Regions from separate parts of the Homo sapiens genome. Here region 2 is linked to region 1. The links come from fine-mapping of genetic effects on plasma protein levels. A gene starts in region 1. The other region holds a variant in brackets. All regions are shown on one strand. Distances are from middle to middle. Region 1 holds the start of SPOCK3 (SPARC (osteonectin), cwcv and kazal like domains proteoglycan 3). Region 2 overlaps SPOCK3 (SPARC (osteonectin), cwcv and kazal like domains proteoglycan 3).

What was found. PIP is the posterior inclusion probability: the model's chance that the variant is causal. Sun 2018 read protein levels with aptamers (SomaScan).
Region 2: its variant is fine-mapped to the plasma level of the SPOCK3 protein (Sun 2018, PIP 0.95).

What each region holds. Positions count from the first base shown.
Region 1 is chr4:167,226,974-167,243,723 of GRCh38, reverse strand. It overlaps SPOCK3 (SPARC (osteonectin), cwcv and kazal like domains proteoglycan 3), which reads left to right and starts at 9,230. Exons shown (of 11, transcript NM_001040159.2): 1 at 9,230-9,274; 2 at 9,551-9,739. The coding sequence starts at 9,551.
Region 2 is chr4:167,206,678-167,223,427 of GRCh38, reverse strand. The region is part of intron 2 of SPOCK3 (SPARC (osteonectin), cwcv and kazal like domains proteoglycan 3); the gene reads left to right. Among named protein-coding and RNA genes, the nearest start is that of SPOCK3, 19 kb to the left of the region's middle. The variant C/T (reference allele first, on the strand shown) is at 4,720.

The sequences.
Region 1 (16,750 bases):
GACACACATTAGTACTAAGGTGAAATCAGTTGTTTGAGTTAGCTGACAAAGATTATTGAAGCATTAAAATGCTGCTTCAACAAGCAGTTACAAATTCTCTTTAAAAATGAAAAAAATAAGAAATATTAGCAAGCAAATAGAAAAATATAAAAAGAACAGCCAGGCGCGGTGGCTCACGCCTGTAATTCCAGCACTTTGGGAGGCTGAGGCGGGTGGATCACGAGGTCAGGAGATCGAGACCATCTTGGCTAACACAGCGAAACCCCATCTCTACTAAAAAATACAAAAAAATTAGCCGGGCCTGGTGGCGGGCGCCTGTAGTCCCAGCTACTTGGGAGACTGAGGCAGGAGAATGGCGTGAAGCCGGGAGGCGGAGCTTGCAGTGAGCCAAGATCACGCCACTGCACTCCAGCCTGGGCGACAGAGCGAGACTCCGCCAAAAAAAAAAAAAAAAAAAGAACCAGGTGGAAATATGGAAATTATAGAACTGGAAAATATAATAACTGAAATAAAAACCTCACTAAGTGGTAGGGTAAAGTTGACCGGGCATAGAATCTGTGAACTTGAAAATCAGTAAACACATCAATTGAATTTATTAAAAAAGTACGGAATCTCAGTGAGCTGTGAACCAATAACAAAAGAACTAACATTTATTTATTGGAGTCAAAGAAGAGGACTCAGAAAAAAATGCTGGCAAAGTACTTGGAAAAAAATAATGGGCAAATACTCCCCAAATATGGTGAGACACAGACCTACTAATTCAAGAGATGAATTAACACCAAATAAATATACCCCCCACACATTCTAAGCTTCTGAAAACTAAGAATAAAGCAAAACATCTTGAAATTGTCTGGAGAGAGAGATTGTGTTACATAGAGAATAACAATTCACATAACAGTGGATTTCACATATGAAACAGAAACCATGGGGCATAAAAGAAAAGGTTGCATCATTTTCCAAGTGCTAAAATAAAAGTACTGTCAACCATGAATTATCTATCTGGTGAAACTATCATTCAGGAATGAAGAAGAAATAGAGACAGTCTCAGATGAAAGAAAACTGAAAACAAGAATCACTAGCAAACCTACCTTTGAAGTATGGCTAAAGGAAGTTTTCTAAAGAAAAAGAAAATGATAACCAAAAATAGTCTTAGAACTTCCTAAAGGAAATAAGAACATTAAAATGGGTAAAAAGTAGGGTAAATAAAATAATACTGTTCTTATAAGTTAAATCATATTTGATGGTTGAAGCAAAAATTATAATGCCATTTAAATGTGTTGCCTCATGTATGTAGAGAAAATATTCCAGGTAACAAATGAAGGTAAGGTCTTTTAAGTTTTGTTCAAAGAGGTAAAACCTCAATATGAGAAGTTAAGTATGTATATTTTCTTGTCTAAAATAACTAAGATCTTTGGCCATAAAATAAATCTCAACCAATTTAAAAGAATTGAATCATACAGAATGTGTTCTCTGACCATTTGGAAAAAACTAGAAATTAATAATAAAAAATATAAAAATCTCCAAACATTTGGAAATTAAACAACACATTTCTAAATAACCTATGTCAAAGAAGAATTCTGAAAGAAAACCAAAAATACATTGAACCGAATAAAAATGAACACAAAATACATAAAAATATGTGAGGTGAAACTAAAGCAGTGCAGAGAGGGAAATTTCTTCCACAAAATGCTTATAATTAGGAAAAAAGAAAATTCCAAAATTAATAACCTAATTTCCTACCTTAAGACATTAAGAAAAAGGGAGCAAAATAACCCAGACAAGCAGAAGGAAGAAAATAATAAAGATTTTTTTAATTAATAAAATTGAAACCAGGAATATGTTAGGTTGATGCAAAAGAAATTGAGGTTTTTGTCATTAAATGTCATTAAAGGTAATGGGAAAAACTGCAGTCACTTTTGCACCAATGTACTAACAGAGAAAATCAATAAAACAAAAAGTTAATTTATCAAAAAATTAAAAAAAATCATAAAACTCTAGCAAGACCAACAAAAGTGGAATGAAGAAACAAATCACCAATATTGGTAATAAAACGGGCGCTATTACTACAGATCATGCAGCCACAAGAAACATGTGAAGAGAATGGTACAAATAACTTTACACTCGTAAGTTCAAAGACTTGGGAGAAATGAATCAGTTCCTCTAAATCCACCCACTACCAAGCCAAGATGAAATATATAATCTGAATAGTTCCTATACCAAGTAAAAAATTAAATTTGTTATTAAAAACTCCTTTAAAAAGTCAAGAAAAAATACCTCAATTCACAGTACAACCCGAGCTAAATTGAGCTGTGTCATTGTTGATTGCAACCCAGAGCTTGATTAGAAGAGTAAACTTTTAAATTATTGTTGCCTGTTTAAAAAATTGTAAGAGCAAAAATATTTTACTTATTAAAAAAAACAAAAGAGGAGTTTGCATTATTGATCTGTGCTATCCCATGTGTATTTATGTTCTAAAAAGTAAGACAAGAATTTGCTTGATTCACAGGGGAATTCTCTGAGCATCAATGAGCACTAGAAAGCTTTCCAGGCAGCTAAGTGAGGCATATTAGATTGAAAAACACTTCAAAAACATTATTTTAAGAGAGATATTTTTTCGCTTCAACTTTTCACTTAGTGTTATACACTCTATTTGTGTCTATATATTAACATTTTAGATAAGGAAAAACATTATTGTGAACATCATGTCATTTCACATCTCTCTGATTTTATCTACCTTCTTCCCTCCACAAGACATGTTATTTTTACCACTCTTTTTCTGACTATTAAGGCTTATTTTTCAAGGTTCACATCTTGTCTCTTAAATGACCCCTTTCTTTGCTCCCACAGTATCCCCTGCAAGTCTCTGGTAGAAATCGGTTACATTTGCCATCTTTGATCCTGCCATTGGTGAAACAGTGCTCTAATCTTCTGTTCTTTGAAGAACTAGTCCCTCTCAGACTTACAAATCAAAGATTTGGTAGAGACTGTTTCCTATCACTGCTTGAGTGTTGGGTTATCACTGTCCACTTCTCATCATCTTTGCCACCAGGGATTATTTTAGGGTTGGACATGTAACCAGATGAAAACCAATATGATACAAGGTCAGAACTGTTAAAGCTTCCAAGGTGGAGGAACTCTTCTTTTCTTGTGAATGAATTTTAGGAAAAGAATCTCTCCCTTTTCCATAATGTGAGATTTGTAAGTGCTATGCCATTGTTTAAGGCACCTGAATTTGGAAGGTTGAAGTTTCATGTTATAAAGTCCACTGATTGAACTGGCACATGATGGAGAAGCTCACCAGCTTTGTTTGAGCTGTTTGTCTGAGGTCAAGCCTACCTGTCAACTTTTTATTTCTATAGGACAATACATTCAGATTTCAGTGCCCTCATTAATTCAGGAAGAAACCTGCTCCATATATTATCTATCTTCACTCATTGTACTCTAATTAAATTATTAAATTATGTGTTTTTGCTCACAAGAGTGTGAGAGATCATGTTTCAACTTAGCCACATTTTTTATCCCTAGTTTGAAGCTTATTGTATAACATTTAGAGAACAATCAATAAACATATTTAAAAATTGTTTCACATTTTAGTTTAATTTTTAAACTAAAATTAAACTAATGCCTGTTAAAGCCTGTTAACATCCTATTCCTTTCCTTACTTTCATTTATCTTGTAGAAAACGGGATGCTTGGCATGGTATGTATGGACAGTAATCTTAACCTTATACTCCTTCTTAGTATGACTGCCTCACATTAAGGGAACTCTCCATTTACCCAAGAGGACAGAAATAAGTGGCATGAATTTGCAATAGCACTTGGGATAGTTTTTATCCTCTGAAAATAGCTAACCCATGGTAATTTAACAGCGAATGATATATAATGCCCGTTTTGCACTGGTCAGCTAAAAATAAACAAACAACAACTTACAAAGATAAACATAGAAGGTTCTTTGTAGATCTTGACTATAGAAACTCTATAGCCATTTTAGAACAATATACCTTACTCAGCCAAGTAGAATTCTGAGTCAAAGAATAAACTGGCTCCCCATATATTTTTATATTAAGATCATTAATAAATATGCAGGTTTAACAAAATTTTAAAAACACATTGGTATAAATCTCAAGAACCGAGGTGTTTTTAGAAACCTTTTTCACATGCAAATTTTTAAATTTAATAGTCTTAATATAAGAATGTGTGTCTTTCTGTGCATGGGCATAGAGTGAAATTATTTTTAAAATATTCTTAAACATTTTATTTTATCCTTTTTTGTGTCAGTGTCTCATAGCCCTCAGGAAAATTTAAATATTTATAATTAATGCTCATTGAACTTTTCAGAAAGTCTTTATTTTACAAAGTCAAAACATATATCTCAATTTAAAGAAAACACAAACTTTAATTGCCTTATTGGCCATTTTCCTATCATCTCCTTAGTAATCAGTTAATTCAGTCAGTTTCACCCTATGGTTTAAATGTTGAAAAATACCTTTTTAAGAATTATAGTAATTGAACTGACTAATGAGTTTCCAATATCTACTACAGCTGTTAAAGTCTGTTTATCTACTGAATGTTTTAGATTAAGTTAAATCACAAGAGGTCCTGTTTATCAAATTAGGTACCTAATATCTTCCAAGTTTGCTTCAGTGGGTTCATCTCTAAAAACAAAGAAACAAACGAACAACAACAAAAGTCTGTTAACATCCTATTCTAGAAATTCCATTCTGGTTTTGTTTGTTTTTGATATCCTCAATGCACATACTAGTAATGGTGCTACTTTCTATTAAATTAAGAACACACGATTTTTAAGACTTACAAGACTTCAGTAAACACAATTCCAAAATGAAGACATAGAGTGTTCCTTCTTGACATCATTTTATGACGTCTTTAATTTACTCCTGAGTTTTTAATACCCAGGGTTTTCCTTCATTTTTTTTCCTCTTTTATATGCTTAATTTAAACTCAAAGATGGATTTGGTATAAGGCACCATTCTAGATGGTTGACTTTTATATATCAGGTATTGTTTCCCTAGCCTTATAATGAAATATTTCAGAAATGGCCAAATTTTGTTTTTAGGTTAACTCATATATCATTAAACTACAGCTTTGGGTGAAGTCAGACACTTGGAAATCCCTTAATGCACATGTCTCCTTACCTTCCACCAGCTGGGAAGGTAATGGGAAGCATGTATTCCTACAGGGAAGACAAACAACACTTGCTTGATTGGCAAACACTTTTGCAATAAGGAGAGAGAGGCAGTCTTGGTTAATTCTCTTCTCAGCCAACCAGTCGGATTGCCTGCTGGGCTACTGGCTTGATGCTGCTGAGATGAAAGATTCCAGTGGACAGGGTCATCATTTGAGTCAGGGACTAAGGTGCTCATTATACAAGTGGAGCTGCTTCTGCCTAGCTTAGCAAGCTCCCTGAAGTAGCCATTCTCTCTTTTCCTGCCTTTAATTATAGATGAGTCCTAGCTCTTACTGAAATAGAGATAGATAAATAAATATGCAACAGGTGGAGAAGGAAAGATATGGGGGCAGAAGAATTAAAGAGCATAAACAGAAGATGATTCAGAGATATTTCTACATAGAGAAAAAATATCTAGAAACAAAGTAGCTTGATCATTCTCCAGAACTTTCCTTTGCACTTAGTAGCTATAGGATCTTAGGCAGTGAAGGCTAAAAGGTATCATGCATGTAAATTGCCTGGCTCTGTGTGTGGCACATGGAAGATGTGCAATAAATTGGACCTTTCCTGCATATCCTCATGTTGGTTACAGATAATGGAGTAGCATGCTTTTATAGTTGTTGGGGAAAAAAATAACCTATGAAAGACCACACCGTGTGTGTGTGTGTGCACGTTGTGCACGCATTTAAATAAATGGAGTTATATGAAGGTCATGGATCCAACCTCAAAGGCGGTTAGAAATGGACCAGCTGTCATTATATATGCTTAGCATTTTTATTTCTAGAGCTGTGTCATGTCTGAAAATGAGGGTAAGGAAACCTTCAGAAGAAATACATTTAATTAAAATAATACCTATCAAAAATGTTCCTTACATCTTTCATGATAGATATTTGTGGACTGATTTACTGAACGTTTAGAGAGAAAGAACAACTAAAGGGACAAATACACAAATATGAAAGCAAAGTTCAATCTAGCAGTGGCCTCAGCATTGGCTTTTCATAATGTATCTAAACTATGTTTCTGCATCAGGTGGCAGAATGACAACAAAGGGGCTGGGAATCTGAAGCCCTGTGTCTTGCTCTGAGTTCCAATTTTGTAAAGCATGATCTGAAAAATAAAATCAAGTCCCAGCCCTGGCACCAGCGTCTCACTTTACCCACCTCATATGCTGCACCCCACTTTCTGCGTTTTTGGCTTCTCCAGTTTTTTAGACTGGCTCTCCATCTATCTGGGAAGCAGTCAGTGAAGTATTTCTTGTCTACTCACCTACCTTGACATACAAGGCTCCTGACTACTCTCTTCCAATATCTTACTGCCCACCTAATACTCTTCCCTTATTATTCTCTGCTGTGTTTTGCTCTCAGCAAGCTTTCAATGAATCCCCACTGAGGTGATAACTGATAACCAAGGTGTTAACTGAAGTGTGAATTCTCCTAGGATTATTTAAACCTTGAAAGCAGGCTGTTTGAGGACCAAAATATTGATATATAGAGAAACTGATAGAAACCTTTCCCTGTGATTAATAACATCACAACATCACACCTACTAGACTTTGACTCTCACTACCAACATGCCCACTTAGCCTAGACAATGGCAATGGCTTGGAAAGAGAAGCTTAAGGAGCTGTAGGAGCAGTCAGGTGACTGGACCACACCAGGCCAACACAAATACACTGTAGACAGGCTCACTCTGCCTCTTTTGACTTTAGAATTTTAAACTTGCAATTTGCTAGTAAATCCTACTCTATCTTCAGATCTGTAGTTTAAAACCCTATCAAAGGCATTTCTCCCAAGATGAATTCAACTGTCATTGTTTGTTTTCAACAAATTTCACAACTTGGAGACGTCCCTGTGGAGCTGCAGTATGGGAAGCTGCCAGTGAAAGCTAGATGTGAAAACATGCTCTGAACATTGGAGAGTCAGCCACAAAATAGACGTATTTGGGGGGGAAATGCTGTATAAACATAAATATATGTGCTTCCATAAATCTAAAGGTGACCATGTTGGCCTTAGATGGTGCCAGTTATTGAGCTAAAATGTATAGCAGATGCTGAAGGGGATGAGTGTTAGAGCATTATTCCTCATCAAGTATTTTGTAGCTAATAACAACTATCTTTTTAAAAGGTAAGTTACAAAGGTTAGAAGGTCATTTTTACTTTTAGAATTACTGACTTCTGCCAAGTATCAGTTTCTTGTAAGAAACAATTTCTGTGCTTTCCCTATTAGACTTAAATTTAGAAATAATGAGGTTTTAAAACATGATGAGATATTCTTATTAATAATAAAGTATTTCTTCAAATTTTGAGGAAGAGAGCTAAGGATGAGAGTGTGGGAGGTCAAAGGACCAGGGGTCAGGAAAAGGTGATAGTGGAGAATGGACCACCTACTATTGTCTTAATAAATTTACTAAACAAGAATTTAAATATGTAAACTACATGGTAATAACCCTCTGTGAACAGGCAAAAATAAATATCTTTGAAGAATTAGCACACATCTATATTCTTAAAGTTTTCTGACATTTGTTCGTGTCAATCAGGGCTCCCATGAATTGCAGTAGTATGTTCCGTGTTTTTCTCCACTAATTGCATTCATCACTGTAGAAATGGGGGGAATTGAGAAAAACATCTTTTTCTGAGTTAAAAATAGTAATAGAAATTTCTTTCCTATATAAATATTACACTTATATTTCCTACCATACATATTATACATTTATTTTGAAATATTACATTAAAAAAGGAAATTAACATTAAACATTGAGTTTGGTCGTTTTGTTAATATAGATTGCAAAATGTTAGACGAGATTGATATGGAAAATGTGTACTGCTGCTATTCGAATAGCTTCTGAAGTTTTGGAGGCTACAAGAAATGTTCAAAGGTCGTAGCTTTGGGAGATGTAGTTTTGGCTGAAATCTCTAATAATTCAAATAGAGATTCATAATGTTATTGCAGTCTATTGGCTTGCAGACATTTCTTGATTTATGTGTAATATTCACTTCACCTAAATTCTCTAAATATGAGAGATTCTCTGTATCAGATTTTCTCTACAAGGGGCTAATTACTGATTTCCTTCCAGTTTATTTAGAATATGTAGAAACGACATGGAAAGCCAAATATTTTGTCATAAATGGAAGTTTGGAATACAAAATTGGTGTTCGGGCTTCAAAACTGTCTTATTTTGCAGGAGGGAGACAGTAGGCTTTTAAAGTTTCCGATTCAGGTTCTACGTTCTAAAATAAAGCTGCCAGGGAGTTTTTATAAAGGGAAAAATGCAGCTACAGTATGTAGGAGATATAGGTGTTCTCAAACGCCCTACCTCGTTATGCTTCTGTCTCTCAAAACAAAACACACACACACACACACACACACACACACACACACAAAGGAAAAGAAAAAAAGAAACTGCAACCTTTAACATGAAAGTTTGCTGTCGGTAGTAATCCAGAAGCTCACAGCAAACTTTAAATTTTCTGAAATTAAACAGATCTCCCAAGACCTTGTGGATAGATGGCCTTTCTTTAGGGAGGAGCTGAGTTCAGGAGCTTTACAGGGTAGGAAGTCCAGGTATTCTTATTTATTAATGCATAAAGTTTTCCTCAGATCTTGTTTCTCACGTCTGCCTGACAACCCTGGAAATTGTGGAGCAGAGGCAACTGCGAGAGATAGTACACTTTGTGTTAAATCCAGGAGCAGAGAATGAGCAGGCTGTCTCGCGAACATGAGAACCTCTTCTGGAGGGGAGAGGTTACAAAGCAGATAAGGATTCCTAGGCTAGGAGCTACCTCGTCCTCTGGCTCCAGCCAAGCGTCCTATCCGGAGCCAACTGTAGCTGGGATCCAGCGAGAGGAAGGTGGGATAGGAGGAGGTGGAAGAGGAAAAAAACGGAGGTCGGGGAGGGAGGGGGAACGGAGGGGAGTAAGCTGGAGATCCGCGCGCGAAGGGAGGGTGGAGATGGGGGGAGCGCGCCGGGCGCAGGGAGCTGAGTGGACGGCTCGAGACGGCGGCGCGTGCAGCAGCTCCAGAAAGCAGCGAGTTGGCAGAGCAGGGCTGCATTTCCAGCAGGAGCTGCGAGCACAGTGCTGGCTCACAACAAGGTGATGTGCCAGGAAGCGGTTTTGTGCCCGCTCGGGCTGCTGCGGCTGGGGCTTGCTTCCTTATACCCACCTCTCCTCCTCTGGGTCTGCGTGTGTGTGAGTGCCCGGCTTTTGGGGGTAAAGCCTGCGGGGAGGGGACACGCTTGCCTCTGCTTGTCTCCTCCTCCCTCTACCCTCGTCGTTGCTAATGCATGTTTTCCAGGGTCGCTCCTGGCTTCGTACCCCTTATTTGACACTGACATGCCCCCCCACCCCCCGTTGTGTCTCCTCTCCCAGATGCTCAAGGTGTCAGCCGTACTGTGTGTGTGTGCAGCCGCTTGGTGCAGTCAGTCTCTCGCAGCTGCCGCGGCGGTGGCTGCAGCCGGGGGGCGGTCGGACGGCGGTAATTTTCTGGATGATAAACAATGGCTCACCACAATCTCTCAGTATGACAAGGAAGTCGGACAGTGGAACAAATTCCGAGACGTAAGTTCCGCGCACCCACATCCCCGGGCACACGCGCGCGCTGCTCCGAGGCGGGGGCCGCGGCCGCCGGATGTGGGTGGGGAGTGGGCTCCGTTTTCTGAGGAGAGGGGTTTAGGGAAACGCGGCGGCGCAGGGCTGCTGGAGAAGTTCACAGTTCCGCTGCCCCCTCCCAGCTGGTTCAAGGGCTTGTTTCTTGGATGCACAGGAGTTCAGGTCTCACCAGGTTCACACTCTTCCTCCCCCACCCTGCTCTCCCCTGTGCCCCCTCCCGGCCCACAAAGGTTACAAAGTGCTGGCTCTAACCTCTCAACTTTTGAATGGTGTTTCTGGCACTGGTAAACACAGCAGATGTGCCTTTGCGATGTATCGCTACTAAAGTAACTAGGATCGATCCTGTCACTAATGGTCCATTAAGGAATTTGAGGGAGGAGGTAGGAAGATGTAAGATTTATAAATGCCCGCTCTCCAAGGGTGGGAGGATGTTTGGCGGCACCAGTAAGGACTCGTTGAACGCTCCCGCTTACATAAAATTGTCGATCAGATTTGTGCTTCGACATGACTTTAATCTAGAACATCTTTGCAATGCATTTGATTATATTTTATTCCAAAATGAATCACTGCCTTGAACTCTGCGGGAAGAGGTTGCGAGGGCGGGAGGATTGCAGGTGACAGCGATAAAAGAGTTAAACCATAGACTCCCCTGGGGAGTTTTCAAAAGGGTTATTAAGAGGGAGCCAGGTTTCCACACTTGAAGCTAGTGGCCATGGCTTGCCAGTCATTTTTATTTTCCTCACCTGATCTGAATGGAGCCCAGTAAGAGCTGCTCACGTACAGAGCACGATACAACTGGAAGCCTTGAATTTGGTTGTCCCAGTGAGGAGGCCGCCCTGTTGGCTGAATACCGCCCCTAGCCCACCCTTTAAAACGCGGAAGGCCTGAACTGGAGCGAGAGTGGTTCCTAGACACATTGCCAATCCTTACCGTGACATTTGAGAGAATTTCTCGTGGAGTCCATCTGCAGTGCACTACGTGGAGATGAGTTAACTTCTTTCATCAGCTCCGACTCAGTCACCATTTAGGAAAATAAAAGGGAGCCTAGGCTAGCTTTCATCCTGCCTCCTCTAACCCATTCTCTCAGCCTCTCCATGAAGTAGCTGACAAGCCAAATCTAGCAGAGGGATTCCTGAAGAAACACAAATTTTTACTTTAAAATTAGGTTTAGCCATTTGATTGAGAATATTTAATGGAGAACCTTGCCTACATACTTCATGAACAAAGCTTAAGCATCATTTTATTGCTAAATAAATGCCCTTATAAAAGCATACCCGTTGCATATTTGTTTTAAGTTTACACCAATATTGAGTACAAGCAAAAAGGATAGCGAGTGAGATATTCCTAAACCTAAAGAAAATTTGTTTATCATGCCCTCATTTGGCAAAATCAAAAACAAAAACGAAAATTGAACACTTCATCAGTATTTGAACAGTGTTTGACATTATGACATTTCATTATTTAATGGCTGCTTTAAAATCTTCTAGAAATGAATTTTTGAAAGACCTCCCAACAATGGGATATATTTAGTAGGTAATACTGGTTGCATGCTGTTTTCTATTTGTTTTGGGTTTTTTTTTTTTTTAATAAAATCAACTACACAAGATTCCTCGCTGGGAGAATTGTAAGAGTATTACTATCTTCAATGAGAGCAGAGATAAAAGCTTTCTTCTCTAAAATGTATTTTAAATTTTGAATAACTTAGTATTCTCTTATTTTATTCAAATTACTTTATTAAATTATTGAGGGACTTGGACAGTTTGTGAATGTGTTTGACTTAAACTATTGAGACAAGCTGAGTTGCCTACTATAGAGCTAAATATGCTAGAATTTATGGAGTCAATTTCTATAGAGATGGAGATTTTATTGCTATATCATTCTCAGTTATTCTAGGATCTCAAGGAAAAAGTCCATCAAAATTGTACATAAATTTTAAAAAGGATTTACTGATACATTTTATGCAAATATCTGTTTTGAAGTATATGCAACACCTAAAAATAAATATTGATTTATTTGAAAAACTTTCATCAGGTTTTAGTATTACCATTTTAGTAAGACAGTTATGTTTTTGCAAAGATGACTTCTGGAGGGAATGGAGCGGATAAATGCCATCATTTTTTACCCTTGAACCACCTGTTGCTTATTATTAACATGATGAAAGGTATGCTGACAGTGTGGTTTCTCAAATAATAATTCAGAATGCATAATATATAATCCTTATCTAGACCATCCACCCCACTGCTATTTATGTATATTCTTTCCCTTTTGGGGAATCATTAGCTTAATAATCTTTTCTGTAGCTCTCAGGATGTTATTTTTCAGTTGGTTTTCAGCTGGAAGCACATGGCGATAAGGCATTACTTGAAATAATACTATACTGCATGAATCTACCTTTAAATGTTCTGCATGAGCATTCATATCTCAAATAATGATTTATGTACTCACTTTATATGAGGGCAAAGAAACATGGAATTCTGAACCTCTTATTTGAGAAACAATTTAACTGAAGTACTTTTGTGCTTTTTTCCCATAAAATATAATTAATTTTATTTATACAAAAGCCTTGGAAAGCATCAGCATAATTATTGCTTGGATTAATCCTTATGATTATTTTTTCTTCCGAAGTGACTGTTTTACATAATCAGCACTGTTTAACAAGTGACTCCTTAATGAAAGTTTGAACTGTTCTTTCTTTTGAAATACATTTTAAAAGTATCTTAAATAATATTTAAAAATACAATTTAGCATTATATTTTAATTGAATAATTTTAAAAATAAATGTTACTCTTTATATATTTGTAATATACGTATGTAAATATAATTGATTTACAATAAAGCTTTAGGAACAAAGAGCATGGATAGAGTTACGAGAGAGTAGGTGAGCATAAAAACTACTGCCGTTGAGGCTCATTTTCTTGATTTCCTCAATATAAATGCTAAAGAAGCAATGAAAGCAAAGACAAGCTTACAGTGAATAGGTATTAACACAGGAGAAACAAGCTTGCAATGAGTAGGTGTTAACACAGGAGAAACCTCAAGTATTTTTGACTGCTCTATGCTAGCAATGTCTGTTGAATAAAGTTTGTTACCTTTGTTGTCCTTTTGAAGGACGCTTGGAGTGTACGATGCTTAATGTTATAGACATAAAGAGCTTTCACTGTTTTGAAAATTATTAATTTATTTGGTTATTAGTATAAAAATTCTGATAAGGATTTTAATATCTATGTCTTAGGAAAGCATACAAGTTTCACTTAATCTAAAGATACAGAAAAGTCAACACATTTAAACATAAGTACAGTAGATAGAACCAGCATGCTTTACTTAGGTTATAATTATGTGATTTTGAAATAAAATAAAATAAGAACTCCCTCAACAGTGGTATATATTCAGTAGATATACTGGTTACATGCTGGTTTTTTTTTTTTTTTTTTTTGGTGGGGGGCTCTGTTGACTAGTGATAAAATTAAGTACACAAGATTCCTCAGTGGGAAAATTGTGGGGTACCATTACTTTCTCCCAGAGCAGGAGTAAAGGATTCATTCATCCCATTCTTGTGAATATATTAGGAGAATTGGAAATCAGCATCGTTATGAGGAAACTGAATTATTAGCTCGAGTGGCTTATGTATTGCATATTTCAAATATTTATATTTTATAGTTTAATTAAACCATACCCTTTATCATGTAATAAATGAGTATGGAATTTGGAACCAATGAATTACTTAGTAATGCATGGTATAATAACATTATCAAAATTATCTATTATTGATTTCACTGAAATACATAAATTAATTAGGAATGACAAAAAAAGATAAAATATGAGAAGCCCTCAAATATTGTATTTTGGAATCAATATAATAAAAACTTAGAAAAAAGAGGAATGATGGCCATGCTAATTTTTAAGTAACTCATATAATAAAAACAGGATTGTACCCTTTAATGGAAATTCAAATAGTTCTAGATTAAATTAAATTTGTTTTTCAATAAAAATACCTGGGGCTCATTCTGAACTTTTTGTTTTAAGGAATGGTGACCACTAGTGTTATAGAAACCATAATCAACTTCAGTTTACATTTATTCCTTAAGTGATGTTTAATATCCTTTGGGTATATTTAACGTAATAATAAAGTTCTACAGTTTAACTTTACAGATTTAACCTTAATGTAAGCTAAAGAACATGTAGAATATTGAGAAAATGTAAAATACAGGCTGACATGTCTCAGAGGCACTCAAATTATAAGTTGACTTTTAAAAAATATCTGATTTGTGGGTGTTGAATAGTAAGCAGAACATTCTTAATTTGTTTTTTCTTTTTATTTGCCTTTTTCATCTAAGGTGAGGTTCTTAAGTGCACAGATTATTTAAGAGATAATGGATGATGGTGTGGGATATTTCCTGGAACTTAGTGGGCTACAGAGGGGTAAAGATTCTCGAGGGTCTATCAACTTCTACTGTTGTTAGAAAGTAAATACAACAATTTGTTTCTATGTCTACTCCAAATAAAGTATTCTATGGCTCTACAGGCCATTAAAATTCAAACAATGAGAATCTTTAAGGAATGCTCTCTCAGTACTTTGTTTAGGTTTATGATGTGCCTTGATTATATTTCTTGAGTTACAGGCATACTCTTAGCATTGAGGGATCCTCCTTTCTGGCAACAAAGTTGTGCTATTATACTTTTCAACAATATGTATCAAAAATAAAATTAAAGATTTATTTGTAATTTGGATATATTTAATAAAGTGAACTACTGTTCTCTCTGTTTAAGAATGCTTTCTCAATAATGGATATCCAATTCTTATGAAAATGTACATTTTCAGTGTTTCTCACTATGAAACAACATTTGTAACTGTGGTAATAATTACCTATATTTCACTGTAGTTGAGAACATAGGCATTTCTTGGGAATTCTTCACAGTTAATTGAGTGCATTATCATGAGTGTTTTTCTCTCTTTCTTTTGCTTTTTTGGTGATTACAGGCACTGGGTTTAGTTCTTAAAAGCTTGTGAATATAGTGTATATATTTGCAGATCAGAGCTGGTGAAGACTGTAGCATGCAGTAATATTTTTATTGGACTATTATTCATATTGTTTAAATCATGGGGAGATTTAATGGAGAGAGGCAACTGACCTCTTAAGAGAAGCAATAGGCAATCTTTGATGATTCTGGGACCAGTGAGTAACCACAGCAGCAAAGGGCTAGGCTCTGGCAGCATCCTGACTCTTGTTTTTGTCATCAGGATCCTAGTTAAGCCGTGATCACAGCACAAACTCCACACTCCTATTTTTTAAACCTGCTACTACAACCACTATCCTGCTTGCCAGTCAGGATTTAAGTTTGGTTTTGTCATCAGGTTATCACATGACGAAGGAAGGCAGGTCAGAGAATGTCCACTGATCTGCTTGTTTCTGAAGGGAATCTTAGCTAGAGCTGGTATCACATTATCAGACTCTGTCAGGAGGTATGAATTGATCACAAAACTTTACTCGATTTTCTATGTGTTTATCCTAACAGAAATTAAAGAGAAGCAAGCAATACTTTTAACCCTCTAGCTTTCATAACTTCCAGTCAATGACTAGAAAAGTGTAACTAAGTGTAAAAGTGTAAGTAAGAGAAACAAATTACTCTATGTATGTTGTATATGTTTATATGTATTTATGTGCGTAGATTCTTGCATAAATGTATATCTACATATATGTGTTATGTGTGTATGTCAAGTTGACAACAGATTAATCTGAAAACAGAGGCAATTATATATTGTGCTATAGGTTTTTTGTATGCACCAGATATGTGTATAGTTATTACACATAACATGTTGAGTAGAAAGCCAACATCCATCTAGCCACCCCCAAAATGTTAAGACATGTTAGGTTTCTTTATTTATTTCTTTTCTTTTCCTGGTTAGGTTTTCTGCATCTTATAACTTGAGATGATTTCATTTACTGTTACATGTGTGGACACAGTGTGCTTTTCTGTTTCTTACAGCTAGTCAGCTTGCTTGGGATTATATATTTAAACTTTTTATCTAGATATACAAAAGGAACATCGTGTACCACTATAGAGCATTTATGTTGCTACTCTGACAGTAAGACTTTGGGGTTGGATGCTTTTAGATCTTATGATTGTGACTCAGAGTGACATTTTATGTTCTCACACAACTTTAGTTTTCATGATCTGGGTCATAATTTTATTTCATTTTATGTACTTATTTTTAAAGGCTGATCTTTGACTTCTGTAAATACTATCCAAGTCCTGTAAGCTCCTGGAGTATTTATATGTCTTTTTTCATTTATGAAAATCATTTCATCTTTTCTATTCTTTCTACCTCTTCTAGTTTACAGATTTGGACACCCCATTAGACTGTGAACTCCCTACAGCTACAGATTGTAGTCTCCCTTCCTCTCCATGATCCTACAACTCACCTAGCATTACCACAATAATTGTCTCAGAGTTATCACTAGAAAATACTTACTAAATGAGGTGACATTATATTCAAAATACATTGCCAATTGAAAAATCCTTACCTAAAGGTTTTTTAGAGCTGTGTTGTCTTTTATTGGCCAGTTCAATTTCTGGCCACCTCAAGCCCAGTTTTGTAATTTAAATAAAAATTCAATTTTTATAAAATATAAAGTTATAAGTATTGAACCACTTTAGTCCTATAAGTTCCAAAACTTGCCAAAATAGAAATGCCGTGTCTAAGCTGTCGTGTCCAGTTTTAGAATGGTCAACAGCAGATGACAATGACATGCATCATGGTGCTCCCTTGGCCAATTAGTTCAATTCTTTTTTCCACAGTTCCTCTTCAACAACATAATTGTGTTGCTCTAACATCTTTAAATATTTTTGCTGCCTAATAGGTAATATCAAGCACTAGCATCTTCCCTTTCTTCTTCAACTACTGAACTTCAATTAATGGTTATATAGGTAAATCCAGATACTTTACTGACAGTTCAGATT
Region 2 (16,750 bases), 20 kb after region 1:
CACTTTAATATATATCTCTCTCTATATATAATATAATATCTCCCTCTATAAATATATATTTATATATAAACATAATATACATAAACATATATAAATATATATGCTTATATATGATTATTCATATTTATAAATGAATATATAAATACATATTTATAAATGAATATATACATATATTTATAAATGAATATAAAATATATTATATATTATATATTCACATATAAAATATACATTATTCATATATAAAATATATATTATATATTCATATATAAAATATATATTCATATATAAAATATATATTCATATATAAAATATATATTATATATTCATATATAAAATATATATTCATATATAAAATATATATTCATATATAAAATATATATTCATATATAAAATATAATATATTATATATTCATATATAAAATATATATTCATATATAAAATATAATATATATTCATATAAAATATGTATAATATATATTATATGTTTACATATTTATATATTCATATATAAACATATCTATGTTTATATATTTATATATTCATATATCAATATATATCTATGTTTATATATTTATATATTCACATATCAATATATATCTATGTTTATATATTTATATATTCATATATCAATATATATCTATGTTTATATATTTATATATTCATATATCAATATATATCTATGTTTATATATTTATATATTCATATATCAATATATATCTATGTTTATATGTTTATATATTCATATATAAATATATATCTATGTTTATATATTTATATATGAATATATAATATATATCTATGTTTATATATAAATATATAACATATGTGTATATATTATATATTCATATATGAATCTATAACATGTATATATATTATATATTCATATATGAATCTATAACATACATGTTATATATTATATATTCATATATTCATATGTAATATATATGTTTATATATAAATCTATATAATTTTTAATTGTAAAAAGCACGACATAAAATTTACTATATTAGCCATTTTTAAGTGTATAATTCAGTAGTGTCAAGTATATTCACATTGTTTTGCAACCAGTCTCCAGAACTTTTTCATTGCAGAACTGAAACTTTATACTCATTTAACCACATCCCATTTTGCCCTTCCTGCAGCCCCTGGTAACAACCATTCTACTTTTTGTTTCTACGAATTTGACTACTTTAGATATATAGGTGGAACAACAGTATTTGTCTATTTGTGACTGGCTTTTGTTAGCATAACATCCTCAAGTTTCATCCATGTTGTGGCATGTGACAGGGTTTCCTTTTTCTTAAAAGACTGAATAATATTCCATTGTATGTATATTTTACATTTGTCCACTTATCTGTCAATAAAAAACCTTGGGTTACTTCTACCTCTTTGCTATTGTAAATAATGCTGCTATGAACATAGGTATGCAAATATTTCTTCAAGATCCTGCTTTCAGTTATTTGGATATATACTCAGAAGTGGAATTGCTGGGTCATCTGATAATTTTGTTTTTAATTTTTTTAGGAACTGCCATACTGTTTTCCGTGGTGGTTACGCTGTTTTACAGTCCTACTCACAATGGATAAGGGTTCCAATTTTTTTGCACCCTTGCTAACACTTGTTAATTTACATTTTGTTGTTGTTGTTGTTAGTAGCCATCTGAATGGATGTGAGTTGATATTGTGGTTTTGATTTGCATTGCCCTAATGATTAGAAATGTTGAGCATATTTTCATATAATTGTTAGCCACTTGTACAGCATTTCTGAAGAAATGTCTGCTCAAGTCCTTTACCCATTTTTAATTGGGTTACATGTTTTCCTTTTTGGTAAAATCTTTTAACAATCATAAAAGTAGAGATTATTAATCTTCTTTCACAAATAAAGTGACTCAGTATCAGCAAGCTTAATCAACCTGCTCAAAATCAGTGAAGTTTGAAACGACTTTCTAACTCTAAAGACCATGTTTTTTTAAAATTAACAGTTGACCACTTTAAAACAGTTACTACAGACAGCTCAAATTGCTTTTTTTGTTGTATTATATTATATTATTTATTTTTTAAGAGACAGCAATTTGCTCTGTTGCCCAGGCTTCAGTGCAGTGGTGTCATCATAGCTCACTGCAGCGGGAAACTCCTGGGCTCAAGTGATCCTCCCACTTTCGCTTCTCAAGTAGCTGGGACTACAGGCATGTACCACCATGTGTGGCTAATTTTTTTTTTTTTAATTTTTTGTAGAGACTGGGGTTTCACTTTGTTGCCTAGGCTGGTCTCAAACTCTTAGGCTCAAGCCATCCTCCCGCCTCAGCCTCCCAGAGTGTTGGCGTTACAGGTGTGTCACATTGTGCCTGGCTTGGTTTTCTATCTTTTGACATAAAGTTGGTCCTTTTAAACGGTCACATTGACTGTCTATTTTCTTACCTGCTAGACCAAGGAATTGATTAAGGTTTGCAATTTGTATTAGAATTTATTGTCCTTTATACAGAATCACCATGATCTTGCTATAATTTGATCAGTATATCTTGAAGCTGCAGTAGGAAACTTCTAGTTGCCTGTCCTTCATTAGTCTTACAAATGTCAGTAGTTTCAAATCACATACTGTTCAAATAGTAATGTTTATCCCTACAGAGGTACTATATTTGGCAACAGCATATTACTGGCATTTTTATTACTGACCTTTTTTGATATCAAAGTGCAGGTCTGAATATCTTATGTGGTCAGAAATAGCTGTTAAAAGAAATACTAGGCTGGGTGGGATGGCTCACGCCTGTTAATTCCAGAACTTCCAGAGGCCAAGGTGGGAGGATGACTTGTGGCCAGGAGTTTGAGACCAGCCTGAGCAAAAAAGCCAGACCTCATCTCAGCAAAAATGAAAAAAAAAAAAAAATTAGCTGTGTGTGGTGGCACATGCCTATTGTCCCAGCTATTCAAGAGGCTGAGGTGGGAGGATTGCTTGATCCAGGAGGTAGAGGCTGCAGTGAGCCGTGATCACACCACTGCACTGCAGCCTGGATGGCACAGTGAGATCCTGTCTCAAAAAAAAAAAAAAAAAAGTTCTTACAGTATCTGTTGTTTGGATTAGAAGTTTAACATCTTCAGAAGCTGTTTTTTAAGTGTTACTGTGCCTAATTTTTAATTTCTACAGTTGTGCCACCACCCCCTCCTTTTCTTGGCTGAAGAGAATTTGACTTCTTCCTATTATCAAATTATGTAAAATGGAAAAAGGAATTATTTTCTTTAATTAAATTCTAGGATTCACAACTTACTATCATACGTAATCAACATACATATCATTTGTAATACAACATAAATGTAACCATTGTTGACTGGGTTCTGAGAAAACCAAGCAATCTCTGTCCTAGTAGAAAACATAGTTTTCTGTTTTCCATGTTGAATATCAAAGAGAGATGTAATGTTATTGACTTAAAAAAATGAAATCCTATCATATATAAGATAGGTTGGAATATATGTAAGTTTTTAAGAATATTTTGTTGTCTACATATATTTTGAAGTCCTCTACGTCTAGAATTTCATTTAAGATATTATGAACAATAACACTGAACATGGGTTCTGTTTTGGAGATTTTAGCAAAAAAGCAAAATTAATTTGCTGCTACACTGAAGAAAATATAAATTTGAGTAAATTAAAATTCAATGATTTCTGTAATTTATTTTTAAATTACAGAGAACTTAATGCCAAATTTTATACTAAGTATGTGAAATAAATGGTTATATGGAATATTCTGTAACGAAAATTAAAATAAATCTTTCAGTCAACTTGAAATCTTTATGTTGAGTGTTCTAGATAATTTTGTGAGTTCTTTATTCTTAGCATAAGTAAAAGCTCATTTAACAGGAATGAGAAAGGAACCAAAAATGCCAAAACTCAATCTAATTAATTGTCTTCTGATATGTAAAACATTGCAAGACATTGTGCGCCTGAATACTGGTAAAACATTAGATATACCTCCTAAAAATAGTAATTTGATAGTCCGTTAATCACAGCTCACTTTTGCTTTTCTATTACCAAACTACTTTGTGACTTTCAAAATATTTACATAGGGTACAATAGGCAAGATACTCTGAAATACGAGCTTGCTAATTGCCTTGGCACATGGTATTAGCATCTGCTGAGAATCGGTTTTAGAATATCAAGACAATATTTATAGCCTTTCATGGCATACAGTATAGTGTGAAATTATAGACAACCTCCTAGTCTTCCAGTAAGGCTGCCTGAGGTGCCCTTGGCAACATCTGATATTCTCCTCGGATGTCCCTGAGGCAGTCAGATTCATCTAAAATGAACAATCCCTGAGGCAAAACTTTTCTAGAACATTGTATCAACAGCATTAACCTAGTATTACCTGAGACATTTTTCCTTGACATAAAATATATTTTTTTGGAGTTGAGATGTTATACACTTTATAGTTTTAAGAACTATTGTACTTACTGAAACTGTGAATTAAAGGCACACTCCACACTGATAACTAGGGAAGTGCTAGTTTGGAAGCTGTGAAATTTGAAAGTAACTCTAGGCAAAGGAGCATTCGTACATAGACCACACACTTAGTACATTATCCTTGGAATTTCTTTTTGATTAAATATGCTAACTTTCTTTGCTAATGTTATTGTCATTTAAAATTGTTTATTTCAGAATTTAAAGTTTTTTTGTCTTTCGTTTACATATTTTTCTAGATAAAAATTTTTTAAAATGGGAAGGTGGT[C/T]TATGGGGAATGACATGTTTAATTCAGATAACAAATTAGTGGTCAAGATAGGAAAAAATATCCCACATTTGTTTTTAGGGACTAAAATATATTAAAAACTTTTTAAATGTATACCATGAACCAAGTTTTGAATAAGTTTGAGAAGCATAGGCAGTTTTTAGGTCAGTGAATGAGATCTGGACATCTAATTTCAGAACTGCTTTGTTTGCTTTGAGTCACTGAAAGCTACCTGGCTTTGCTACAAGAAGTCTTATGTTTATTCTTGGGAGGAGTGCCTCTTTATTGAATATGCTGTTTGCTCTAATGTGTAGGTTCTAGAGGATCTTTGGCATCAGCCTCAAAGGTGACAAAAGCACCCCTGGTGCTAGTTGCTACTCTTGAACTAGGATCAGAAGTCAAGTAAAACGTCAAAACATCATCTGAGGCCAAGTTAATGTTTACTGGGGATCTCAGACACTTACTTTGCTATTAACACACGATTATTTTTTAGCTAAGGGCAGTTCCCTGACTTCTAATTGTTCAGCCTGTGTGCCCCTGAATAGCTTTTAAGTGCTATTCAGAAATGTGCCATGTTAGAAACATAAGAAAGCTTGTTCTTGTAGCAGTAGTTCTTGTAAGTGGTAGGTAGTTGCGTGATTTAGGAATTGTAATTAAAAAAAGTTTGTTCTTAGTTATTGGACTTTCATAACTTAATTTTCACCTTTTTATTTTTGGACTATACTGTGATGTTTCTGATTTGTGTTTGTTGTTTGCTAAAACCCTTTGGTTTGTGGGTTTAACTTTTTTTTTTTACTTTAATGAAACTGTATATTTAAATAACTTCCTCCTAGATGGCCTAATAAAAAATCCATAGTAATTTTTATAGCAATGTTGCAATATTTATATCATGTATAGCCATTTAGTATGTGAAAATATGTATTTCAGATTGAGTTTTAAGTTGGGCACATGTTATATTATCCACCACCAAGTTTCTTTCTTAAATAAATATTGGCTAACTCACCTAATAATCAAAATAAGCTGTGTAAAGGACATATTAATAGAATTTTGTATGTTATACGAATTTGCAGTAGCATATTTTTTAGGTTTTTGAAATATTTTCATATACAGTCTTCTCTCAGTATCCATGGGGAATTGGTTCCAGGACACCCCCACCAGGAGAGATACCAAAATCCATGGATCCTCAAGTCCCTTATATAACACAATGTAGTATTTGCATGTAACCTACACTCATTCTCCAATACACTTTAAATTACCTCTAGAGTACTTATAATACCTTATACAATATAAATGCTATGTAAATAGTTGCTTTACTGTATTTTTTAGGAAAAAATACCAAGAAACAACAAAAAAAAACATCTGTACATGTTCAGTAGAGAGGCAACCATCCATTCTTTTTTTCCTCGGTATTTTCAGCCTGTGGTTGGTTGAATGCATGGACGTGAAATTCATGGATACAGAGGGTCAACTGTATTACAATTTTTAACTGAAATAACCTTGTAAATAAAATTGTCCAACTTGTTAAGGATATTCAAATTATTATTTAACAAACTTTTGTTTAATTCTTTTTAAAGTTTACATTCATTAATAAAAGGCAAATAAAGTAGCCACATAAATTTTTTTTCACCGTGTTTAACAAATTGTTTTTTGTTCTTTAACAAAGCCATTGGATAAGGCAATTTGTACATGTGTTTAGTTTGGCAATGTAGTTTATCTCTAGTCTCTGATCTTATTTATATTTATTTTAGGATTTCTCTGTACTATTGTCATTCAGTTATGAGTGTTTACTTTTGCAACATAATAAAGTGTTTCTACATGTATTAAACTGATGCTTTTCCAAAGCTAATCTTCTGGGCCAAAAATCCTTAATTATTTTGGGGCGCAGAAACTCAGAATTTGAGGATATCTATGGTTACTTTTTCAGAAAATACTTAGATATACAAAAAATTGTGTATAATATTCAGAGAATTCACAGTTCTCAGCTGTGATTATTTAAAACGTAGGTAAAAGTGAGCTGTGCAATGCCATCATTTCTACAGAACACAACTCTTAAAGCTGTGCAAAAAAAATTTAAATGACCTTGCAATTACAGGAAGTTTATTATTGATGATATCTTGGACTCTTGTCTTCCTCCTCAGCGTTCCCAATCAAATCGCTTGCATATCCTGTCAGGGTCTTCTCTGCAGTATTTTTCAAATCCAAGACTGTTCACCCTTCTTTGGGCCAGATCCTCATTATCCATCCCTTAGGCTAGTCTTGTAGATAACCTTCATGTTTTCAGGCTTCTCCCTGCCTGCAAGCACCAATAATACTTTTTTGATCAATTATTTTTTTTCCCAAATCATAGTTCTGATCTTGTTCTTCTGTTTAAAATCTTCTATTCATCTTTTAATGTATTACAGAACAGGATTGTATATAGCTGCAACTGTAAGTTGCCTTCCAAAAATCTGTAAACGGTATTTTTTTCGGTGGGATAAACCGCAAACTCCACATAATGGATCAGTTCATATATATGTATAGTCACGTTAGAGGGAGATCATGTGATTCCTAAGTCTACTGGAGACTCTTCAAATATTGTAACATATACTTGGAGGGTGGCTGTTCATCAGAAGAAGTCTGAAGTGAGACACAGAAAAATCATTTACCCAGGCAACATTTGCCAGTACTAAGGAAAGACAGTGGTCATTTCTAACATTACTCTAATGCTCTACAACATGTACAGGTCAAAAATTTTCCTTTCTTCAATTCCATGCTCACCCAGCAAATTTCTGATTTTAATGCAGCTCAGCCTCAGGGAGCAAATGTACCAGTCTTCCTGAAACATGTTTTCTGCTGACAGAACAAGGTTTCTGAGGCTTTAGGGCTGAAGGCCAAATCATGGATGGTGGGAAATTCATCAAGGTAATACTGCAGTGTGAGCTCTTTCACAGGCAGCCAGGATGTTCCTGATGATAGACAGGTCTTACCAGAAGCTTTCTATTCAAACATCAACACCAAACAACATCCACATTTCCTATTCCCAAATCCAAAATCTCTTCACTACCTGCCTCCAAACCATATTTGCTTTCGGATCCTTGTTTCCTCTTTCATGCATTCTTCACACAAATCAGGTATCACCTATCTTCACGCCACATTCACTGCTCTTTCTTTTTTTGTGTCTTCCTCACAGTGAGTTTTTCATCTAGAAAAGGCGGCCTTTGTCCTGTTACGTATCTCATTCTCATTTTTCATGACTTATTTTTATGTTTTCCTTTTTCCATGACCTCTTCCATGATTACTATAGTCACATGCAACCTGTCTTTTTCATGAGTCCCTGAAGCACTTTTTGAAAGGCGGTGTCAGCAGTGGAAAGAGCCGTGTTTCTTAAGAGTTCTGTACCTTGCACTCCAGGAGTGCAGAAGGAATAGTCATAAAACATTCAAATATGGGTAAGTGAAGCAAACTGAAACCTATTCTTTGCAGATCAAGTATAGGAGTTAGTAGTTAGTATAAATACCCCAACCCAGGTTAATATTATTAGTTGATAATACAACATTTTATCTTATTTCTTCTGTAGAAATTTTCTATTGATCCTGGTAGTTACGGAGCACATATTCATTTTTAATTTCTAGACAGTCTTTCCTAAATTTTGATTTTTGCATTTAAACTCTCATTTACTTTACAAGAACACTGTAACTTTTTACTATCATGTTTGAACTACAGTAAATATATATATAGTAAATATATATACAGTAAATATATATATGTATATTATCGAGGGTTTGCCATGGCATATGCAACATGTTTTTGCTCTTCCAAGCAGCCAACTCCTGATCTATGAAAATGTCAACAGTAGGCTGCTGGGTTTCTGCTGTAAGTCATCACATAAATTAGGTGCCCCAAGGTAAGCTTTCAAACCTAGAGAAAGGGTTCTCACTGCATCTTGTCTGAACTCAAACTTTCTAAAAATGAGAAACATTTTAGGTAAGAAGAAACACTGGTGAAATGCTATTAAGACTCAAATGATTCATTCTAAGATTCACCCTAAGATTCATTCTCTGTGTGTAAAATTACAGAAAAGTGAAATTTATAGACTTTATTTTTCCTGGAAAAGCATCTATTTTAAGATAACTTTTAAACCTGATTTTATAATAAAAATGGTAAGAACAATCACTTGGGAAAAACCAAATGATTGTTATTGAGAAGACAAATAATCTAATGTATATTAAGTAATGTGAAGTTGTAGTCATGAATTTTAAAAATGACAGTGTTTTTAGTACCCCAAACAAAATTGAAATCATAATTTCTCGCTAAACTGTTTTTTTCTATTTGCTGATAATGTTATAGTGTTATGCATTCAACTCTGGAGAATCTAAAATACTAATGAGAGACAAGTGGGGTTTATAATCTATGCTATATAGTTACTTAAAAAAGATAACGACAAATATTTTTATAGGTATTTTATTCTTTAAACTACATAAAAACAGTAGTAACAACAAATACAATTCTGAAACCATTACAACTGCTACCTATTGGGTGGTTTCATGATGGTATGCTTTGCTATATTCTTAAAACCTTTTCTAAATTTACATCTTGGAAGACATCCTCAACCAATATAATAAAGGTTGCATCTTTGCATCTACACTCATAAAATCAAAAGCAGAAATGAGGCCTTTGAGAACGTAATTTGGTATCAAATCATGTACTCCAATTGCTTGAATATTACCATAGCATTTTATAGTACAGGATTATAGTGTTTCAATTTTCATCATAATAAAAAAGACAAATATTTAAATCAAGCAGTCTTGTGACAGTACAATAGATTAAGTCATCTGTGTGATGAAATGCCACCTTGACGTTTACAATTTTTTATGGTGACTGCTTATTGGTATTGTGATCTGATATGTTATATATTTTGTGCTCTTTTGTAAAATTTCTAAAGATTCAAGATTCACCATATGTCATCTTTTAGGATTTCATCATCAAACACTGGTAATGCAAGGTAGTTGAATGTATTTATATTGAAGCCTTGATGTTTTGACTTATAATTGGTGTTGAAATTGATCATGGAGGAAAAAGAGATTTCTATTTCCTCCATTATATTTAAATGAATATTTCTGGTAATAGTGTTTATGTTTCAAACTCTAGCTCCATTTTATCCATAAAGTAGCAGATGATATTGGCAAAAAGACAAAATGAAAGACCACCAAAATAAAAGAAAATTTTCTTGTTAAATATTAAAGTTTTCTCACTTATGGGGAGAGTTAATTTTATAATATCACATAACCTTTTTTATAATGTTATCATTAATGCAATTTGTGACATGAAAAAAGCAAGAATATTTAATATCATCAAATAGCAGAAAAGATTTAAAAATAGTTACAATTTTGAATAAACTGTGACCTATCTCTGTGGCATTCTGGCTCCACGTAACACAGAATTGCATCTGTTTTTGCACAAACACAGGAAGAAATTGCACATGTAAACAGTTTTATTCCATGGACAAAAATAAAACATTAAGTTGATTTTCCCTAGCAAGGAACTGAGGCCTAGAAAAGCAACTTTGCCATTTACTTTGCCATCAATTAGCATAGGCTGACACCAGGCCATCTATGCTAAACTTAAACGATTCAATCACATGCTGCCAGTGGCAGTATTAACATTTCTGTAAATAAACGTCTGGAAAATGCTTAGATGTAGATTGTGCTCCAGCATCTTCACTACAGACGGGGTAGTGGCCAAACCAAATGTTCTAAGGTAATTCTTAAAGGCACGTGGACAAATGCTCTATGTTTCATTTGTTTTGTATTTTGTCATGTAGCTTGAAAAATATTCAAAAATCACTCTAATTTTCTAAAATACCTTGACCACACTGTTTCTAATACCCTAGAGTATAATTTTCTAGTGACATTATGTAAGCAAATTGGAAAAATGTACTTTATCAATTTTGAAATGACTCTAAATGTATTTTGAATTGAATGTGATTTCTGTTCTCTATTATGATGTAGTGGGTGGAGAAATGTGTCCCTTGGCTGTTGGTTCTCTGAATTACATTAAAGTTTACTGAGACAGATACAACTTGTGCTATTATCAAAGCAATAGGAATAGAAAAATATGGTTTAGGTTAAAATCATCAAAATTTTCTTGAGTCCAGATTTCTGTCTATATTCAGAGGTATAAGAATAAATCTTTGGCTGGGCGCCGTGGCTCCCGCCTGTAATCCCAGCACTTTGGGAGGCCGAGGCGGGTGGATCATGAGGTCAGGAGTTCAAGACCAGTCCTGGCCAACATGATGAAACCCCGGCTCTACAAAAAATACAAAAAGTAGCCAGGCATGGTGCTGGGCGCCTGTAATCCCAGGTACTCAGGAGACTGAGACAGGAAATTCTCTTGCAACTGGAAGGCGGAGGTTGCTGTGAGCCGAGATCACACCATTGTACTCCAGCCTGGGCAACAAGAGTGAAAGAAACTCTGTTTCAAAAAAAAAAAAGTAAATCTTTTTTAAAAAGTCAAATAAACAAAACAAAACTGTACTGAAAAATCTAAAATGAACACAACACAGAGTGTAGTGCCTTGGAGTAAAGGCATATATTAGAACTGGTTTTGTCATTTATTATGTGTTTGTTTATATTAATAACAACCCTGTATTGTAGGTATTATTGTCATTATTTTCCAGAAAGCCAGAATAAGCAGACAAACAGATAATAGTGGTCAGAGATTTGCCTAATGATGCTGGAGTCAGTATGTTTACACTGTCCATTGTATAGCAATTTGAACAATTTGGTAAATAGTAATGCAAATAGGTCTTGAAGTTTCTGTTTTATATCTGCATAGCTCAGCAAAGGAAAATTGCTTCACTAAAACAATTGATTAAAAGTATGCTTTTGTCTGTTGTTAAAATGAAAAGTACCATATTTACTATGTTCCAATATGTACATGTATTAGTCCTTTTTCATGCTGCTGATAAATACATACCCGAGACTGGGCAATTAACAAAAGAAAGAGGTTTAATGAACTTAGAGTTCCATGTGGCTGAGAGACCTCACAATCATGGCAGAAGGTGAAAGGCATGTCTCACATGGTGGCAGACAAGAGAAGAGAGTTTGTGCATGGAAACTTCCCTTTTTAAAACCATCAGATCTCATGAAACTTATACACTATCACGAGAACAGCATAGGAAAGACCTGCCCCCATGATTCAATTACCTCATAGAGGGTCCCTCCCACATCACATGGGAATTCAAGATGAGATTTAGGTGGGGACACAGCCAAACCATGTCATTCCGCCCCTGGCCCCTTCCAAATCTCTTGTCCTTACGTTTCAAAACCAATCGTGCCTTCCCTGCAGTCCCCCAGAGTGTTAACTCATATCAGCATTAACTCAAAACTCTACCGTCCAAAGTCTCATCTAAGACAAGCAAGTTCCCTTCCTCCTATGAGCCTGTAAAATCAAATGCAAGTTAGTTACTTCCTAGATACAACAGGGGTACAGGGATTGGGTAAATACACGCATTCCAAATGGGAGAAATTGGCCAAAACAAAGGGGCTACAGGCCGCACGCAAGTCCGAAATCCAAGGGGCAGTCAAATCTTAAAGCTCCAAAATGATCTCCTTTAACCCTATGTCTCACATCCAGGTCATGCTGATGCAACTATGTATATTAAGTACATAACATATGTTAATCATTTTTTCTGTCATTATCAATTACATAATTTATAACTTAAGTTGAACTTTAAAAAATCGTTCATTGTTTAGCAATTAAACCACATTTAGATTAAGCATGTTTTCCAAAATATGCAGGATCTATCATTTTCCAGTAAATCAGAAGTGTCTATGCAATAACTGAAATATGTGATCAGATATTAAATTAAAAATGTGTTTGCATATATATAGAGAGAGATACACAGAGAGAGAGAGCCTTCTGCACTTACCTATTTTGCTCTCGAGCTAGTCATATATTTGTATGACTCAGCCTTTAAAAATGAGAATGATATTTGTTTTTTCAGGAAATGAGAGGATTATTATGAATATCAGGCAATCAAATGTATGAGAAAACACTTTAGAAAATAAATTGCTAAAATATATCATTTCAAAAACAAACATTCTTCATCTATATAAAGTTAAAGTCCTTCTTTGCTAAATACACACATTTATCTTTTAATATTTATAGAATTTATATTAAATAATCATTGAGATTGAAAGCATGTCAGTAAAGAGGAAAAGACCTCTTTGTTTTTAAATAATCATGTGTGCCACTTTTAGCCCACTACCCAAGACGTACCATCTCCTCCCTGAAGAATCCTTGTGATAGTTGAAAAGATTGACATGTTGAATAATGATTCAATGCACTGTGACAATGGAAGTCAGATAAGTACATGCAAATTACATCTGTAGTGGGAGGTGATTCAATGAAGGCCTCACAGAGTCCATGACACTCAATCTGTGTTTTGATGAATGAGCAGAGTTTGTTCTTTGAACAGGTGGAAGAAAGCATACCTGACAGGGATCTACACATGCAAAGTTATAGAGGTATAAAAGTACGTGGCATGTTCCATAGGTATAAGAAATTAAATGTGCGTAAACAAATTGTGAATGATAGAGAGTCAAGACAGAGGAGACTGAAAATTGTTAGGACTAGGATCTGAAGTTATTTCCAAAACCTGCTAAGCTGATGATTTTCATAAACAAAGGAGTGCTCCTACAATTGCCTCCTTGACAGATTTTGATGGATATCCACAAAGTCAGAGGAAGACTTTTGCAGTTGTTGCTACCTGAACAACTTGTGATGTCCCCCTTCACTGCCCTATATTTGATTCAAAATAGAAAGCAGAGTGAGAAATTAGTATAAGGAATTCCCATTAAGTTCTGCTTTTTTTCCCATGATGTCTACTTTGCATTATTTTAGAAAAACTATAAATACAAAATTCACTAAGGTTTAAAAATTTTTTTTGTATATTGTAACTGTCTGAGTGTCCCCAGTTGTCTGAGTGTCCCCAATTTGCTAGTGTTCTAAGCACATGCTCCTGCATTCTCAGGTAATGCAGTACACAATTATTGATCTTCTATGTAATGGCTGGTGCATCCATCCACATTTTATAATCTGGCTATTTAAGTGAGAAAATGAGAACTGAGGAAAATGTGTATTCTAGATAGGGCAACAGGAGCTCTTTAAGGAAAGTGGGGATTTTTTGAACATAGGACGTACAAAGACATGAAAGATTTTCTTCTAGCCTCCAAACACAGAAAACATGATTCATTTCCATACCATATCAGATTGAAAAATTCTTCAGTGTTAGCATTGTGAAATATCTTTGAAATATCATTTTTATTTAAAATTTATAGGCCTTTTGCATTTTGTTCCATTCTAGTACTAGTGAAAAATTCTACTCATCCATCAAAACCTAGTTTAAGAATCAAAAAACATATTTGCTTCAATTTAAAAATAATATTTTCAAATATTACTTAGAAAACTGATATATTGGGAGTTCAGGAGAAACCACTACATTTCCAGTAACATGGAACATTCCATATCATGGCACCCAATACAGGAACCCCAGTCCGAGAAGCACAATGTTAACAAAAGCCATTTTACCTTTCTCTTGGCTTATTGAAACTAAATTGCAGATGCCCTTCTGTCTTTAGTGGTGACTCTAGTAGTTGTGATTGTTGTACAGCAAACAAGACAATAATTGAATTATAATATATTCATCCACTTCATTTGTAGATTAAAATGACAAAAAAGATATTTCACTATTAGTGATCTATGTGCAAATACAAATAAATAGTTAACTAGCATATGTAATTTTTGAAAAGAGTGATTGCAAACAAATATAACTCTAAGCTGTTAACAGGATTTTAATGTTTTCCTTATCAAGATATTGTTTTAAGATTCTCATTAGTTGTAACTTTTATAGGAAAGTTTCCTTGCTAAATATTAACAAAATAATCACTATTCCTTTTCACAGATAAAATCATGCTAAATTTACAGAAATATTTTCTCATATTTTTAGCAGATCTACATGTATAAACAAAAATCTAAATCAAATGTCATTCAGCTTACTATCATCAGGTGGTAAATATGTTATCAAAAATGTGCTTAGTTCAACAAGGAGTAATGGAATAGAAATGAAAAAAAATAAAGACCAGTTAAATTTGGAATATTAGAATGAGAATTGAAGATGTTTGCCCAAGATAACATAGCTAGTAAGTCTTAGATTTGGCCTGTTTGACTCTGAAGCCAAAGATCTTAGTCAGTGTTCTCTACTGATTTCCTAAATTACAAAGAATTTTCCTAAAAGTAAGCGACTTGAGTCTGTAACTATTTGGAGAGAAATAATGCTCCAAAATAAAATAAACCAACTACATTTCCTATTATATCTCTGCTCACAGAGGGAACAACTATGAATAAAATAGCAAACTACAAATAATTGAAACAAATGTTACCTCTGTTGTTGTTATTATACCATTTTAATTTTACTTATCATTCAATAAATCTCTAAGAAATTGCCCCCGACCAGTTTTTTTTTCCCACTTTTCGGCAATGGTGATTCAAAGACAAATATTTTAAGGGAACTACCTTCATCTTTTCAGTTGGAAAATTTCTTATAGAAGAGGTTTCATTGGCACAGTATTGAGGAATGAGAAAGTGTTTGCCAAATACTTAGGAATCTGGGAGTAGGGGTGGTCTTCAAATCAGATGGAGCCCTGAGTAAGAGTATCAAGTACCTGAGAAGCTCAGAAGGCCATTTACACAACAGGCTTCCTTGGCTTAGCATTAAAATGCGTTGTCATGTAATGAAAAGCATTGCGGCTCAATTCTTGGTTAGCAGAGACAATCTGAAACTGAATTTTTTTTTTTTATTATTATACTTTAAGTTTTAGGGTGCATGTGCACAATGTGCAGATTAGTTACCATATGTATACATGTGCCATGCTGGTGTGCTGCACCCATTAACTCGTCATTTAGCATTAGGTATATCTCCTTATGTAGTTCAGAAAATGAGTGATCCAAAACTTATAATTGCATATTAACTTATTGAAATAGGTTTACATTTGTATTAACTATTATTCAAAAATTGTCTAACATGCTTCACAAGATTTAAAATGAGATATTAGAAGAAATATTTTAAATAGGGCTACAGATGGTGGGTTTGTAGGTAATAAATGAATAAACAACATTGTTTTAAATTATGCTATTCATTGTTTAAAATAGTTAAAGATTCATGTTTTAAAAATATAAAGCTATAGTGATTTTACACCAAATACATGACATATGATGTAGTAATTGAAAATATTATTTTTATTTCCTACATTTTTTTTAGTTTTTTTATTAGAAAGTTAGACAGTATTCTGTTAATATATAATCTTTCTAAAATAAATCTTTCTAAAGTCATAATGGTAGGACTCTGAGAGTCGTAGTATTGGAATGTTCATTTACCTCTATAAGCAGGTGTTTATTTTGTCAAAGTAATAGTTTATTGTCAAAGAGTTTAAATAAATCACAATATTATATAAACAGTAAATCAACACATCTGTCAATACTTATTACCTATGCATTCTCAGGTAATTTTATTTCAAATAAATAAAAACAACTTATAGACAAAATCCATAGTTTATTTTTATAAAATTTAATTTAATTTTTATAGTTGACACGTAATAGTTGTGCACGTTTATAGGGTACACAGTATTGTTTAAATACATACAATACATAGTGATAAGATCAGGGTAATTAGCATATCCATCATCTCAAACATTTATCGTTTTTTTTGTGTTGGGAACATTCCATGTCCTTCTAGCTATAGTCATCCTACAGTGCTATAGAACACTAGAACCTATTCTCCTATCTAGTTGTAACTTTGTATCCTATAACAGATTTTTTTTCTATGGACTACTTTCAAATTGGCAGCTGGCCTCTTAGTCATTTAGTTTTGATAATTTTCAGCAACATAAGTTTTTCATTACACTAAAAATCTCCAAGTCCAGGACCATCACAAAACAAAAGAAAAAAGAAAAAAAAATTGGTATCTGTTAACAGAATTACTTGAGTCTTAAGATGG